2 linked regions of the Homo sapiens genome follow. The protein of the gene in region 1 purifies or fractionates together with the protein of each later gene. This does not show direct contact. Each region holds a gene or a part of one and is shown in the gene's direction. Other genes may lie near its edges.

Region 1 (3,500 bases):
CATGGGTCCAACCATCCAAACACAACTCATTTGCATGACCCCAGAACCACCTGTATATGTTCTTCCCTTTAAAAAACTGCTAATACTAAGGACCATTTAGCCTAAAAAATCAGGTATCTCCAATCTATACCACTCTCCATCTCACCTTCAGCCTATATGCCAAAGTGCCATACTAATAAATGACTCATCATTCTGAGCTTCTAGGCTTTATGGGGGAGTCCTATTAGATCAGAATTGAAGAGACCTGCTGCCTGCTTCACTTGGGGCACAGGCACCATGCGTGGCTTAATTTCACACAGCTCTTTAATTGAGCCCCAGTGCTAACAGCTTAATGGGACACCACGACATTATATCCTGCAGATTTTAAATTAAAGTTTGAGACCTCCCCTCAGGACATGCACAGTACCCCAATTAACACTAATTGGCATTATACATGATTACCAAGTGAAAACCATGGTTTTCCTGAAAATGCCTCCTCTTTTCTCCAGCTTTAAATAGTCCATAAATTCTAAGAAAACAATCATGGGTGCATGCAAAGATTAGCTAGAATGATGTCTAGCATGATGTTCATATTGGGAGAACTTTGGAAGCAACCTAAATATCTATAATGGGGGTTCTGTACATAAAAGATAGTAGAGACAAAAGCAATTATTTTTTAATGTCACACATAATTTTGACATGAGAAGGTGTTCATGATACATTGTCAAGTGAAAGAAGTTAAGGAAGTGTAGAAATGGCATGGTATCACTTTCTCCATAGTATAGACAAAAGAGACTGGAAGGATATATATACTAAAATGTAAATCTCAAGGTGGTAAAAATAATGTTGATGTTTATCTTTTTCATTTCCAGGTCTAAATTTTTTTCTTTAAAAAATGCACTATGTTTGTAAAAAGAAAATGCCATTTTTAAATCCATCATTGATTTCTGAAGAATAAATGCAGTGATTTATTTTGAAATGTTTTTAACCAATTCTTCATCTGCACCAACTCCCGTGTAGGGCACTGAGGATTCTATATCAATAATGTGTTGATAATTTTCAATGGAATTATGAAGGTAAACAGTGTTTTACATGTCTGGAAAGACGAACACTGGAGTGATTTGTTGCAAATGCACATTCTCTTGTTCAAACTGATTCAATCATGCCAAACCACACCCCTCCCAACACAGAAAGTTCATTTACGTCTGTGTGTTTCTCTTCCAGAGCCAAAGATGTTTGTCTTGCTCTATGTTACAAGTTTTGCCATTTGTGCCAGTGGACAACCCCGGGGTAATCAGTTGAAAGGAGAGAACTACTCCCCCAGGTATATCTGCAGCATTCCTGGCTTGCCTGGACCTCCAGGGCCCCCTGGAGCAAATGGTTCCCCTGGGCCCCATGGTCGCATCGGCCTTCCAGGAAGAGATGGTAGAGACGGCAGGAAAGGAGAGAAAGGTGAAAAGGGAACTGCAGGTAATGAATGAGAAGTTGCATAAAACACCCTCCTTCACCCCCACCTTAAAACTGTTCCCCTTTCTTTGTTACTTTTTCTAATGGGAATTGCTCCTTAAACCCCTTCTGTACTTTCATTAATCGTAACTTACTGAGCCCTTACTAGGCTTCAGATGCTTCCCTAAACTCTGTAGCTGCATCCTTATTTCACTGCAATGACAACTCTTTCAGCTGAATGTTATCCCATCTTATAGATGAGAAAATTGAGCCACAGTGTGATTAAATGAATTACTGAGAATGGACCGGGGTGGATGTGCACTGCTAGTAGCTGCCAGAGCCAGACTCAAACATCTGATGTCCAGAAGTACTGGGCTATTGCAGCCAGCAGGCAATGGCTGGATGTGCAAGCGCATGGATGGACAGACAGAGAGATGGACAGAAGGGGAAATGGACAGATTAAGCAGAGGCAAAAACCAGGAGCCAGATGCATAGATGCCATCCTGCTCAGCATGAATATCCTGAACAAAGATACATAAAGGGCTTCTAAATTTTATTTTTCACAGATGAAGTGACAATAGCACTGTAAAGCCTACCTTTCCTAGCTCATCACTTTCCCACCTGACACATAGCAGCTAAAAAGCAGATTTTTACAGCTCTTTACAGCAACACAATTGCCCACTAGTCCTTCAGTAATTTTCACTTTGTTTCCTCGCAAAATAAGTTGGTCCGGGAAGCTTGCCAGATTCTGCAGTCCTTCAGGGTAAACCAAATTGAAATTCTAGACAGGCTGTGTTAACTCTAAAAGAGGAAGGGATTTGGAATCAATCTTTCAAGACAAGTTGCTGAGCATAAAAGTTGGGACAAAAGATAGGAAGGAAAAAATTCTATATAACTCCAATCATCACACCTGATTTACTGGAGTTCTGTAAAACAAAATCATAAAACATATTCAGATTATTGGATAATAATTCATTTCTGAATTTGCCATGCGGATAATATCTGGCAAATCAATTACCAAATCTATGAACATTGCACAATAATAGATAAAGAACCTTTAGGGAAAGCTTCAACATCAGATAAGAAGCTTTAATTTGGAGCTAAAATGTAAGTTTTTAAAGACATCCATAGGGTAACACCTGTGAATATAAGTTACAACTGAGTCATAATTATGAATATTCTTGAAATCCTATAATAACATCAGGATTATAGTTATATATTGCTTTTAGTTTACTGGGTCTGGAAGCAATAATGTAGTGGCTATACAAACAAACATTGGAGTCAGAAAGACTTTGGCTCAAATCTTAGCTCTTTCAGTTACTAATCTAGTATCCTTGGCCACATATGCTCTTAGAGGCTCAGTTTCCTTATTTGTAAGTTGGTGGTAATAAGGGTGATTGTTAAGTTTAAGGGAAAGAGTACATGCAAAACCTTCCACAGGATAACTGCCATGTGATAAAAACTCAGTAAATGTTATAACTTATTAAATTCTGATCTGCAAATATGAGTCACAGCTAAATTTGTGACTAGCAAAAGCCATATAATAAACTAGACATTGGTAATTCGTTTCATGAGGTAGTTCTAATATTAAAGACATATATGTGGATATGCATTCAGATTAAATTAAATGTTCAGAACTGCTACAGTTTTAACCATATATGAGGCTAACTATACCACCACATTCATAGATCCACTCATTCATCCATGCATCCAGGCATTATTCATTCAATAATATTTCTGTGCACCTATTACTATCTAATATTATTCTTCCAGTGTTTCTCAACCTCTGCACTAATGAGAATTTGGGTAGAATAATTATTTACCGTGGAGTGACTATTCTGTGCATTGCAGGATATTCAATAGCATTCCACTAGATGCTAGTGGCACTCCTCTCTAAATTGACAATCAAAATTTTTCTATACGTAGCCAGCTATCCACTGGGTAGAAAGGTGGACAGTGCAAAATTGCACCTGGTTGAGAACGCTGTTCTAGACACTGGGAACGCAAGCATAAGACATTGTTCTTGCCTTGATAAGCAGACATTCATGTGGGGGAGGCCAATATATACAGACATA
Region 2 (3,500 bases), on another chromosome or scaffold:
AAAAAATTAGCTGAGTGTGGTGGCACGCGCCTGTAGTCCCAGCTACTCAGGAGGCTGAGGCAGGAGAATTGCTTGAACCTGGGAGGCGGAGGTTGCAGTGAGCCGAGGCTGTGCCACTGCACTCCAGCCTGGGTGACAGAGTGAGACTCCGTCTCAAAAAAAAAAAAAAAAAGTCACACAAGTCCTGGCCACCTTGCCAGGTGGGGAATGGGATGAATGCTGTCCTAGACAGTCACCCTGCCCCAGGCGGCCACGGAGTTCCCTGTACCTCTCTCATTAGAATAGCCTAGGAATAAAACAGGTGATAAGTCAACTCTCCAACAGGGTGCCCAACTACAAAAGAAACTATAGTGAAATTGGGTGGTAAGGATTAAAAGGAAACAAGAAAGAAAAAGATAAATAGAAACCAGCCAACAGAGATAAAAGAGAAGCAGGTGACAGAGCCGGAAAGAAATAAGGCAACAGGGAGAAAAAGAAAGCAGTAGTGACGGAGGCACATTAGTTTAATGAAAAGGGAATCAGACGACAGGACTCATTGGAAAACAGGCTATCAATACAGTCATCATAATAAGGCAATAGGGCTAGGGGGACATTTATTGGCAGGTTACAAGGAAATCGGGCAACAGGGGTACAGGGAGATCAGGTGGTTTGATTGGAGAGAATCCTAGCTGTACACTAGAGGAAAATCAGGCAGCTGGAAAAGGGAAATTTGGCATAGGCTGCAGGAAATAGGGGAACCAGAGGGAAATTGGCAAGCGTCTGGAGGAGACTGGGAGGTAAAATGTGGGGGAAATTGGATGGGGGTGGCTAGAAGACAAAAGGATTAAATTAGATGGAAATTGGACAGGGTTAGAGCAGAATTGGGTGGTGAACTGGAGAGATGACTGGCAGTGGGACCAGAGTGAAATCAGGCAGAGGATTGGGGCAAAATTGGGCAGGGAGGCTAGAGCGGAGCTGGGCTGCAGGCTGGAGGGAAATTGAGTGGGCAGTGCAAAAGGGAAATTGGGCAGTTGGGTATAAAATGAAACCGGCAAGGTGTGGTGGCTCACGCCTGTAATCCCAACACTTAAGGAGGCCAAGGCAGGAGGCTGGACTGCCTTGAGGCCAGGAGTTTGAGACCAGCCTGGGCAATATAGCAAGAGCCTGTCTCTACAAAAAATTTAAAAATTAGCTGGGCATGGTAGTGCACACCTGTAGTTCCTGCTACTCAGGAGGCTGAGGCCGGAGGATGGCTTGAGTCCAGGAGTCAGAGGCTGCAGTGAGCTGTGATCATGCCACTGCACTCCAGCTTGGGCAACAGAGCAAGACCCTGTCTATAAGAAAACAGAAAGAAAGAAAGAAAAGAAACAGGATGGATTGGAAGAACTCACGTGGTGAGCTGTTAGAGAAATTGGGTGGTGGGACTAGAGTGAAAATGGGCAGCAGGCTATGAGGACGTGTGAGAGGGTGGGCTAGAGTGAAATTGGCCAACAGACTGGAGGGGTATCAGTCAGGTGGCTGAATGGGATGTCAGACCAAAGGGAATTGGGATGTTGGTGAGAGGGAGCTCATTGGGTAGAATGAAATGAAGGAGTGGACTGGTGGGAAGTCTAGCCCCGCAGGGAGTTTGGTGGGGGAAGCACAGGTTGGGGGCTGGGCAGCCTGAGACCTGACCCCCACCTGCCTGCCCTGCAGGATGATCCCGGCGGAGAGCCGCTCGTTCCTGCTGACGGACCTGGCGTCAGGCCGGACCTACGATCTGTGCGTGCTCGCCGTGTATGAGGACAGCGCCACGGGGCTCACGGCCACGCGGCCTGTGGGCTGCGCCCGCTTCTCCACCGAACCTGCGCTGCGGCCATGCGGGGCGCCGCACGCTCCCTTCCTGGGCGGCACGATGATCATCGCGCTGGGCGGCGTCATCGTAGCCTCGGTACTGGTCTTCATCTTCGTGCTGCTAATGCGCTACAAGGTGCACGGCGGCCAGCCCCCCGGCAAGGCCAAGATTCCCGCGCCTGTTAGCAGCGTTTGCTCCCAGACCAACGGCGCCCTGGGCCCCACGCCCACGCCCGCCCCGCCCGCCCCGGAGCCCGCGGCGCTCAGGGCCCACACCGTGGTCCAGCTGGACTGCGAGCCCTGGGGGCCCGGCCACGAACCTGTGGGACCCTAGCCAGGCGCCCCCCCCTCTAAGGGTCCTCTGGCCCCACGGACAGCAGGACCCGGACACCCTGTGGGACCTGGCCTCAAACTCACCAAATCGCTCATGGTTTTTAAAACTCTGATGGGGAGGGTGTCGGGGACACCGGGGCAAAACAAGAAAGTCCTATTTTTCCAAGCTTGGGCGAAGACCCTTGCCCTCGTCTCTGTCTATGGGGGTTGGGGGACGGAGCAGGGGTCTGGAGCTGGGGAATGCCTCCTTTGGGGAGACACCCCCTCCCCGCCCAGTTCAGTCTGAGGACCCCGGAGGAGGCTGAGGATGGCGATCCATTCAGACAATAGATGTTCCCTGCGTGTCGGCTCTGAGCATGCCCTGGGTTGGGGGATGCTGTGGTGATCCAGATAGCCCTGAGCCCTGCCCGCAGGGGCCTAAAGTCAAATGGGAGACAGACACATCCCCAGACAGTGATAGCACAGAGTGACCAGGGATGTGGGGATGAGGGAAGCCTGGGGGATTGTGACAGTCCAGAAGAGGTACCCTTGCTCAGCCCCAGGTGTGGTCAGGGAGGGCTTCCTGGAGGAGGACACATGTGATCTGAGAATGACATATGAAGGAGATAACTGGGCAAAGAGCAGAAGGAAAGCTCTTTCAGGCAGAGGGCACAGCACAAGCAAGGTGGTGGTGTGCCCTGGGCACTGGGGGTGCTATGGTAGAGGTGAGGCAGGAGGGTTGAGCAGGGTCTAGGACCTCCAGGCTGAGGAGCTCAGACTCTGGCCTGATGATACCAGGGAGCCATGGAGGGTTGTATGCAAGGGAGGAATGGGGTCAGTTTGGGGCTTCAGGAAGATCCTTCTAGTGCTATGAGTAGGGTGGACCCAAGGGGAAGACTGAAGCTGGGAGCCCCAGGGGAAGCTGGGGCAGGGACCTGGGTGGGTGAGGACGAAGTTGGACCAGCTGGGCTAGGGAACAAGAAAAGGGAGTGGGTTGACAGAGACACTCGGGAAACTGTGGGAAGCTGAGGCGGTGGGTTATGGAGCTGCGGGGCCATGGGGTGGGGCAGGAAGATGGTGGGGACTGCCCTCATATAGGACCAGGGAGGAGGAGCAGGTTTGGGAAAGATGATATGGCCAGTGGGGAACTTGGTAGGTGTAGGGGGCCCTGAGGATGTCCAGGATGTGGCATTCAGGAGGGTGCAGGACCCCTGGTCTGAGGCTGAAGCTGGAAATAGAAATGAGGGCTTTGTCAGCAGAGATGGGAACTGACGCTGCTGGGGTTAAGACGGCTTCTTGTGGGGGATGATTCCAAGTCCCCACTATGGGACATTTTTTCTTTTTTCTTTTTTTTTTTTACAGATGGGGTCTCACTA

The links. The genes of interacting proteins can lie anywhere in the genome.
Region 2: the proteins of C1QTNF7 (region 1) and LRFN3 purify together in Homo sapiens (affinity purification with mass spectrometry; one large-scale study listed by BioGRID and IntAct). This does not show direct contact.

What each region holds. Positions count from the first base shown.
Region 1 is NC_000004.12:15,434,533-15,438,032, forward strand, and holds part of C1QTNF7 (complement C1q tumor necrosis factor-related protein 7 isoform b precursor), read left to right. Parts: intron 1-1,203; coding exon of another isoform or gene 1,204-1,211; coding exon 1,212-1,449; intron 1,450-3,500.
Region 2 is NC_000019.10:35,942,874-35,946,373, forward strand, and holds part of LRFN3 (leucine-rich repeat and fibronectin type-III domain-containing protein 3 precursor), read left to right. Parts: intron 1-1,674; coding exon 1,675-2,146; 3' UTR 2,147-3,500. UniProt on the Homo sapiens protein: Cell adhesion molecule that mediates homophilic cell-cell adhesion in a Ca(2+)-independent manner. Promotes neurite outgrowth in hippocampal neurons.